Regions from separate parts of the Homo sapiens genome. Here region 2 is reported to be linked to region 1. Evidence: microRNA targets listed by miRTarBase, many of them from high-throughput screens and not tested one by one. Region 1 holds a microRNA gene; the other region holds the end of a gene's coding sequence.

The links. Region 1 holds the annotated microRNA hsa-miR-627-5p (GUGAGUCUCUAAGAAAAGAGGA, at 2,159-2,180, shown strand). A microRNA usually pairs through its seed, bases 2 to 8, with sites in the 3' UTR of a target mRNA and lowers its output. Matches are read on the target gene's strand: a 7mer-m8 pairs with bases 2 to 8, a 7mer-A1 pairs with bases 2 to 7 and ends in A, and an 8mer does both.
Region 2: miRTarBase lists KANSL1 as a target of hsa-miR-627-5p. Seed matches in the 3' UTR shown: 7mer-m8 at 3,235-3,241.

Annotation. Positions count from the first base shown.
Region 1 is chr15:42,197,414-42,201,809 of GRCh38, reverse strand. MIR627 (microRNA 627) reads left to right here and starts at 2,144; the gene lies at 2,144-2,240. It overlaps VPS39 (VPS39 subunit of HOPS complex), which reads left to right. Exons shown (of 25, transcript NM_015289.5): 2 at 1,849-1,914.
Region 2 is chr17:46,028,214-46,032,563 of GRCh38, forward strand. It overlaps KANSL1 (KAT8 regulatory NSL complex subunit 1), which reads right to left. Exons shown (of 15, transcript NM_015443.4): 14 at 3,834-4,086; 15 at 1,703-3,490. The coding sequence ends at 3,263. MAPT (microtubule associated protein tau) reads left to right here. Exons shown (of 13, transcript NM_001377265.1): 13 at 1-121. Among named protein-coding and RNA genes, the nearest start is that of STH, 31 kb to the left of the region's middle.

The DNA.
Region 1 (4,396 bases):
ACCTTTATGTTATCAAAAAGCTAAGGAAGTATCTGTACATGCTTACCTTCCTTGAATGATGTAATATGGGTCTGTCAGGGTAATTATTTAAACTCTTTCTGAGCCTCTTTTTACCTAGACCAGTGCCTCCCAAAATGTGGTCCTTGAACCACCAGCATCAGCATCATCTGGGAAGTTGTTAGAAATGAAAATTCCTGGGCCTACTTTTAAACCTACTAAATCAGATGCTCCGGGGTAGAGCCTAGCATTCTGTATTTTAACAAACTCTCAAATAATTGTGATACACTAAAGTTTAAGAACCACTAGCCTAGACCATCTTTTAAAATGTACAATTTGGCTGGGCACAGTCGCTCACCCCTGTAATCCCAACACTTTGGGAAGCTGAAGGGGCATTGCTTGCGGTCAAGAGTTGGAGACCAGATTGGGCAATATTGTGAGCCCTCATCTCTATAAACATTTTTTAAAAAATAGCTGAACGTGGTGGTGCATGCCTGTATTTCTCGCCACTCAGGAGGCTGAGGTGGGAGGATCACTTGAGCTAGGGAGGTGGAGGCTGCAATGAGCCATGATCACACCACTGCTCTCTAGCCTGGGCAACAGAGTAGAACCCTATCTTAAAAAAATAAAAGTTAAAAAAAAGTGTACAATTAAATGGTTTTTAGTACATTCACAGAGTTATGCAACTATCAGCACAATAAATTTTAGAACATATTCATCACTTTCAGAAGAAACTCAGTACCCATTAGTATTTACTTTCTATTTTCCCCCAAGCCCACCAGCCCTGGGCAACCGCTAATCTTTCTACCTCTGTGGATTTGCCTACTCTGGACATTTCATATAAATGGAATCACGTGGCCTTTTGTCTGGCTTCCTTCAGTTAGCATCATGTTTTTAGGTTCATCTGTGTTGTAGCATATATCCATACTTCCTTTCTTTTCATTGTTAGCTAATATTCCGTTATATAGACATGCCACATTTTGTTTATCCGTTCATCAGTTGGTGGACATTTGGTTTGTTTCCATCTTTTAGCTATTACAGATAATACTGCTGTGAACATTTGTGTACAAGTTTTTGTGTAGAATATGTTTTCATTTCTGTTGGGTGTGTAACCAGGAGTGGAATTGCTGGGTCCCAGGGTAACTCTGTTTAGCCTTTTGAGGAGCTGCTAGACTTTTCCAAAGTGGCTCTCCCATTTTACATTCCTGCCAGCAGTGTATGAGGATTCTAATTTCTTTATATTCTCATCAACACTTGTTATTAAATATTTTCTACTAGACTATCTTTTGAGATAATGAATTCTGTAAGCTTATTATGTTACGTCATTTATTTTCCTGAAAGTAAAAGCATTTAAAGGATGCCTCTTAGCTATTATTGCTGAGGTTGGATACCTGGTTTCACATTTGTACTTCCATTTTGTGATTTTATAAACTTTCATCATATTCTTTTTAGCAGAATTTAAAAATATATATCTGAAGATATATATCTTAATAAAAGTATATATAACAAAAAATAAAAATCATAATAATTTAATCTTAAAAATACAAAGCCCTTCTATCTTTTTTATTAGTTTAACATTAAAACAATTGAGCCAGGACATTTTTATCCTCTGATATGTCTAGCCTAGTAATTATTCAATAAATGTGTTTTTAAATGGTTGATTTTCAAACATGAGTATAAACATTTCTTAGCTTTGCAAAACACCTCCTATCAAAAGCAACTCATTTTCTTGACACATTGATTTCTGATTACAAGCCCCAGCTAAAAAAATAGGGTTATACTCAAGCTGATTGACCTTTCTCAAAGCTGGTTTTTTTTTGTTTTTGTTTTTGTTTTGTTTTGTTTTTCCAGAGGAATGGCTTCTTGTGGGAACCAAACAAGGACATCTTCTTCTCTATAGGATTCGGAAGGACGTTGGTAAGTGCACATTGCTCATGCAAAAAAATAAGTTTTAATAGTCAGCTAGTATACAACTGTGAAATCAGTTATTCCTGGACCATTAAAAGAGAGATTGAAGGTTAGAGGGAGCACGGTGGGAAAATGGGGAGAAGACTTGAGAATGCCTAGGGTTTTTCTCCTCCAAATTGTATTGCCCTACCTGCATTTGGGAGGTGAGGATGAATTGCTGGTTTACTTATTACTGAATTACTTATTACTGGTAGTGAGTCTCTAAGAAAAGAGGAGGTGGTTGTTTTCCTCCTCTTTTCTTTGAGACTCACTACCAATAATAAGAAATACTACTAATGGGCATAAGCTTCCTGTATATATGGTGTGGTGGTAGGAAAAAAAATTAGGCAACATCGATTTAAAATATCTTGTTGGCTTATGAGGGGTAGAACAAGAAGAGAGGACCAGGGTTTGCCTTCATGTGCACTTCCCCCTGGCTGCGTGACCGTGAGCAAGTTCTTTCCAACATCAGTTTTCTATAAACTCTCTGCCCCACAAAGTTGTTGGGGTGGATGCAATAATAGGCTCGAAGAAACTGTGAAAACTAAAGTTCTAATCAAATGTGACTGTCAGTAATGTAGAGTAATAACTAAAGTATTTGAAATGTATTCTGTTAAAGAGTGTTTTTTATTGGGGCAGAAAGTACCTCACTGCCCTTCCTTGTTTTCGTTTCTGTGCTCTCTTTATGGAGAATAGATGTGTTTAGGTATTATGCCCTGGAGCCACTCTACAGAAATCTGCAGTTAATTTCATACCCTTCAATATAATATATATTTCTCTGGTAAATAGCTTAAGAGATAGCTTAAGATAAATAGAGCTCTCTTGTGGAACCTGGAGCAAGGGTAACACTGGGGGAAAAAGCACCTTACTAGTGCACTCGGGAAAGAGAAGATATCCTGGTCAGTTTCTGCAGCAGGGTAAGAAAAGAAACCAGAGAACAAAATAGATAATTTATTTCATTTCTAAGTTTTTCAACTGTCCTCTAAATCAGGGTCAGCAAACTTGTTCTGAAAAGGTCCAAAGAATAAATATTTTAGGCTTTGCAGTGTTGTTACTACTTAACTCTGCCTTTGTAACATGAAAGCAGCTGTAGGCAATATGTAATGAATAGGTATGGCTATGTTCCAATAAAACTTTATTTACAAAAACATGCAAAGGCCTCAGTTAGGCCCTGGAGCAGTACATTGTTGATCTTTGTTTTAATGTTTTAAATTTTTAATTCTCATGGCCTGTGAAGTGGCTCATGCCTATAATCCCAGCACTTTGGGAGACTGAAGTAGGAGGAATGATTGAGGCCAGGAGTTCGAGGCCAGCCTGGGCAACATGGCAACACCCTGTCTACAAAAAATTAGCTGGATGTGGTGGCACGTGCTTATAATTCCAGCTGCTCTGGAGGCTGAGGTGAGAGGATCGCTTGAGCCCAGGAGGTTGAGGCTGCAGTGAGCTATGATCACACCATTGCTCTCCAGCCTCAGCAACAGACTTTGTCTCAAAAAAAAATTTCTTTTTTTAGTTCTCGGAGCCAAAATATTTGCGTTCTGTGATATTTGCCTGGTCTATAATTTTAAAATTAAGCTCACATTTTAATTTTAAAGCTAAAAATGCTTATCTTATTCAGCATTCAACAATTGTTTTTTGACTCTCTGCTTTGCTTTCACATGTAAGTGGTGATCAGAAATTGAAAACAAGACTTTATAAATGAAGTCTCAACACAGTATAGACCTGAACTGGTAATATTAGTGTTAATCTGGCTTGGAACCCTGGTGGCGACTATTCCTTGCCCTATGATCATTTTATCATGTCACCTTTGACAAATTAGTTAATGTTCCTGGGCCTTGGTTTCGCCATAGGTAGATTAAATATAGACAATTAGGAAATCAAATTCTGATTTGAAACTTTTCTTCAAGAAATGCCATTTTTCCCTATACTCTTGGTGAACAGTTTAGTTCTGGCCCAGATCTGGCCTGATGTGGGCCAGAAATAGACCTGGGCCCGTGTGAATTAGTTCTAGGGTTAATTTGGTTTCCAGATTTGAGATATTTCAAGCCTAAATAGGTCTTTGGGTAGACTGTCTTTCTGAGGAAAGGGAGGGGATAATAGGGTCAAGAAAAGACTAGGGGTAGGGATCGTAGGCTCTGATCTGATCTGAGTCATTTCCCTGGAGCTCAGTTGAGCCAGTGACATTTTTATCCTCTGATATGTCTAGCCTAGTAATTATTCAATAAATGTGTTTTTAACTGGTTGATTCTAAAATATGAGTATAAACATTCCTCAATAGACATCTCTAGGCTTCATTCTGCTCCTTTATTTTTTGAGACAGGGTCTTGCTGTGTCGCCTAGGCTGGAGTGTAGTGGCGCTATCTTGGCTCACTGCAGCCTCAACCTCCTGGGTTCAAGCCATCCTCCCACCTCAGCCTCCCAGGTAGATGGGACCACAGGCACACACCACTAT
Region 2 (4,350 bases), not on the chromosome of region 1:
ATCTTAGCTTAGCTTTCTGTCTGTGAATGTCTATATAGTGTATTGTGTGTTTTAACAAATGATTTACACTGACTGTTGCTGTAAAAGTGAATTTGGAAATAAAGTTATTACTCTGATTAAATAAGGTCTCCATTCATGGATTCCAAGGACAAGAAAGTCATATAGAATGTCTATTTTTTAAGTTCTTTCCCACGCACCCTTAGATAATTTAGCTCAGAACAGGAAATGATAGTATTAATAAAAGCTGGACATCAGGATTAACAGCTCTCTCTGGGGCCCTGAAGGTGAGAGTTCTCAGACTTGCTCATTTGCAGTTGCTTCTTTGTGATGCTGGCAAACCATCCTAGTCCCATTCAAAGGGCAATACAAAGCCTTGTGGCTGACCTCACGATGCAGCACTCAGTTTGCAAGACCGGCACCAGTGTATGCAAACCTGAGAAGGTTGGGGATGAGGATATGGGATCTTTCATCCCTGGAAATTTAGTCCAGAGGCCTGGGGCTGGAGCAGAACACCAAGCCAATCAGCTTAATGAATGGCTTAGATTCCTGCTAGGTTTGCAGAGCTGCCTTCTTTCCTTTGGTACCTTATTATAGATTGAGGAGTATTTCTGCTAAACCAAGATAGGGATAACCAGATAGCATCTTCATAGCAATGCCACAAAGGAAAACAAAAACAAAACAGTAATCCATCATATTATTCCTTAGTAACTATGCCAAGGTCATGATACTGAATCCTTAGATTGTTTCAAAATACTACTTTTCTTTGCTCTTCCTGATGTGTTTGCCACCGCAGGCAGATGTTTAAGTAAAACAGATTTTAACTGCAGCTACAAAAGCAGCAACAGGCCAGCAAAAGAGAAGTGCTATCTCAGAGAGCATGGCTTTCAGAGCCACAAGAGACAGCCTCACTGGCTGTTTCAGCTTGACTGCCATGCAAAGAAGAGAGCAGAGGGAGAACCAGCCCCACCCACTTATTCATCTTGTACAAAAAAAAAGCACCTACCAGCCTAGGCTACATAGTGAGACACTATCTCCACAAAAAACCCACGAAAACTAGCTGGGTATGGTGGCACATGCCTACAGTCCCAGCTACTGGTAAGGCTGTGGTGGGAGGATCTCTTGAGGCCAGGAAGGAGATCCAGGCTGCAGTGAGCCAAGATTGCACCACTGCACTCCAGTCTGGACAATCGAGCAAGATCCCATCTCAAACAATAAAAAAAAAAAGCGTGTAACCTCCTCAGAAGAAAGATGTTATAATCTCAGGCAGCAGGCAAGAACCAATCCAGGCTCTAAGCAAATTATGTATCTCACTGACCCCACCAAACCTCAGAAAAATTTAACAGTGAGAAGCAAAATCTCCTTTAAAGAGCAACTTAGAACAGATAGAAAATATCATACAGCTGACTTCACTAGAGAGAAAGTGCATCAACTGCTTTCACTCAACAAAAAGAAAAAAGAGATGATCAATGCAGATCCCCTCTCCTCCTGGCAGCCCTTACCCTCAGTGAAAAGCCACCACCATTCTCTCTCTGGTGGCCATCAGATCAACCTGCGGCGTTCCCACAAGACAGAATGGAGATTTTCCAAGGTATAGAGCAAGTCAGAGTACCCCAAAGAACGGCGGCAGAGAGCCAGCTCCGAAACTGCCAACACTACCATGCATACACAGTTCAGTAAGTCAAGAAAGGCCTGGTACACAGCATTCTGTAACTTTTTTTTTTATTTTTTTCAATTTTTCCTTCTTTTTTTTTTTTAAGCACTAGTCTGTGCTTTGCGAACAGAATCAAGACATTAACAAAGATCAGCTTCTCTGAAGAAAAGCATTTCTATAGAACAAAGACAGCTACATGTTTCGCTGCCATTACACAGCTCCAAAGCAGGAAAAGAAAATATTTACAAAATACAAGGTTTTTTTTTTCCATTTTTTGTTTTTGTTTTTTTTTTCAATGCTAAAAGGGTTATTCAGAATTTTCAACCTTATAAATAGAAGAAGCACTTTATGCATAGGGATATGGTGCATTATTGTATTTTTTTTTAAAGAAACAATGACAAACCCTTTAACTTGCAAACAGAAAAAAAAATCACTAATGTTGAAAATTGTGAAAAAACCCCAACCATTAAGCAGTTGTCTACTATTTTTATACGATTACAAAATGGCCAAAAAAAAAGAGTCTTCTCCCCCCTCCCCCTTTTTGGTGATGTGATCATACAGGAGACAGGCACAAGGTTAACAGAGAAGGGTGAAGGGGGAACAATGGGAACCACAGCTAGGACCAGACAATGTTCCACAGGCAAGGGGAGCGTGAAAGACCAAGAGTGGAACTAACACCGACAGGGATCTGGATGTGAAGGAAACATGGCAAAGTGAATCAGAGGGAAAAAAAAAAAAAATCACACAGGGAGATGGCTGCTCACTTCCCACAACCCCCAGTTTGCAGGGGAGTGGGAATAGAGGTTAAGTAGTCCTAACCCTACCTTCAAAGATCAGGATAGGTGGTAAAAATATTCCAAGTGGAAGGACGGGTTGTGGGTGTGTACATGGCATGGGAGAGCAGACAGGGAAGGGTACCAAGGGGCATGAGGAGGGGAACCTGAGCAGCCACAGCCAGGTTACTGCAGTGAAAGAGTCAAAACAGAGAAGACCAAATGCAGATGAAACAAAAAATCAGTCTCTTAAGTTCTGGGTGAGAAAGGAAAGGTGTTCTGCCAGCTGAGCACTCGGGGAGAGCAGCTGGCAGTTATGGCAGAGAGGCTCTGGTGGGGATGTTCCAGCACGAAAAACCAAGGGGACCCAGCCAGGAGGGCCACAGCAGAGCCAAGCCACAGATGGGAGGGGAGGGGGTAAGAGTCCAGAGCACCCTGCCCCATTCCACCCTAGCTCAAGAAGGCCATGCTAAACTGTAGCCCGCCAGGCTGTTCTGCCCTGCCCACAGGTGTGAGGGAGGGGGTGGTCATCTAAGATCAGTAAGTCCAGTGATTCAACAGTGCAGAGGATGTGCCAGGACCAGGCCAGCAGGGTCTCATCCTGAACTTCTGTTTGCCAACGGGAGGAAGTGCTCAGGTGTGTGACAAGAAAACATGGAAACAAAAACAAAACAAAAATTAAAACAAGAAAAAAAAATACCAAAGTAGGATCTAAATTCCTTAAGTTCACTAAAAACTGTGAAAATTTCCGGCATATGATGTTTGAATATCAAACGCAGAGATTTCTGAAGCTTTAATGCCAATAGTTAGTGAGTCTGTTTAGATGGCTGTCTCCCGCTCATCTGTGAGTCGGGCGCTGAGCTGTGGCTGCTGCCACCAGATGCCGACTCTTGAGGGGGACAATGGGAGGCGAGGTGGGCGCTGCCTCTGTCTCCCGGCCAGTCTTGCTGCCTGAGGTGCGTCGAGTGCAGCGGGCTGCTCGCTCCTGTGCATCCAGCTGGTCCTCACACTCCGCCTGGGGACTGTGCGCCAGGGGGAAGGTCCGCCGCTCCCAGGGCTGGACAGACTGTAGGCAGACAAGTTGCTCTTTGAGGACCCAGTCCCAGCCAGCCTGCTTCCTGCTCCAAGGCCCTGCCACAAACCTTGTGGCCTGGAGCCTAGGACCAGTCTATCTAGTGTTCCTGCGACAGTCTGGGAACACCCCTCCTAGGGTATACCCAGACAACTGTATTGATCATTTAGCAGTGATCAATACAGTTCCACTGAACGTTGAGGAGATCAATTTAAGTGCAGCCCTTTGTCCCTTCAAAAGGGGGAGGGGATGGCTAGGTCCCTCTTCAGCAGATGCTGCCCCTTCCTGGTTCCATCCCCCAACCATGCCAACCCCACCCAAAGGCTGCGTCCCTTACCTGTTCATCCAGCCCCAGCTCTGGTGTGGAACAACGGGTATCCTCACTGGCTAAGTGTCGCGGAGTGTCCCGAGCCACAGGGGTGAGGGGTGCTGAGTGCAGTTCCGGGCTAATGGGGCTCCTAGGGGACTGACCATGGGAGTATTCTGACAAAGAGTGGCTACTGCTGACATCAGGGGAGGCAGGCTGGGGGGTGGAGGGGTTGGCACTGCCCAGCTGGGGGGTTGTCCGGCCGTCTGATGACCTGTAGGACCTGCACACCAAGGAATGCAAATCTGAGTGCCTGGGAAATGTTTACTTATGGGGGTAGAGGGCATGAAAAAAGCATCCCCACTGGAGGAGTTGAGGCAAACAAACACCAACAGATTTTCCTTAGGATCCAGCAACTCCCATTTCTTCCCACTATTCTCTGGAGGGGTAGGTATACAACATTTACCATCCCAAGAAAAAAGCATGGCTGAACAATGCCAGGTGAGTCCATAGCAAAGTGCCTAGTGAATTCAGGAGGTTAGGGAGA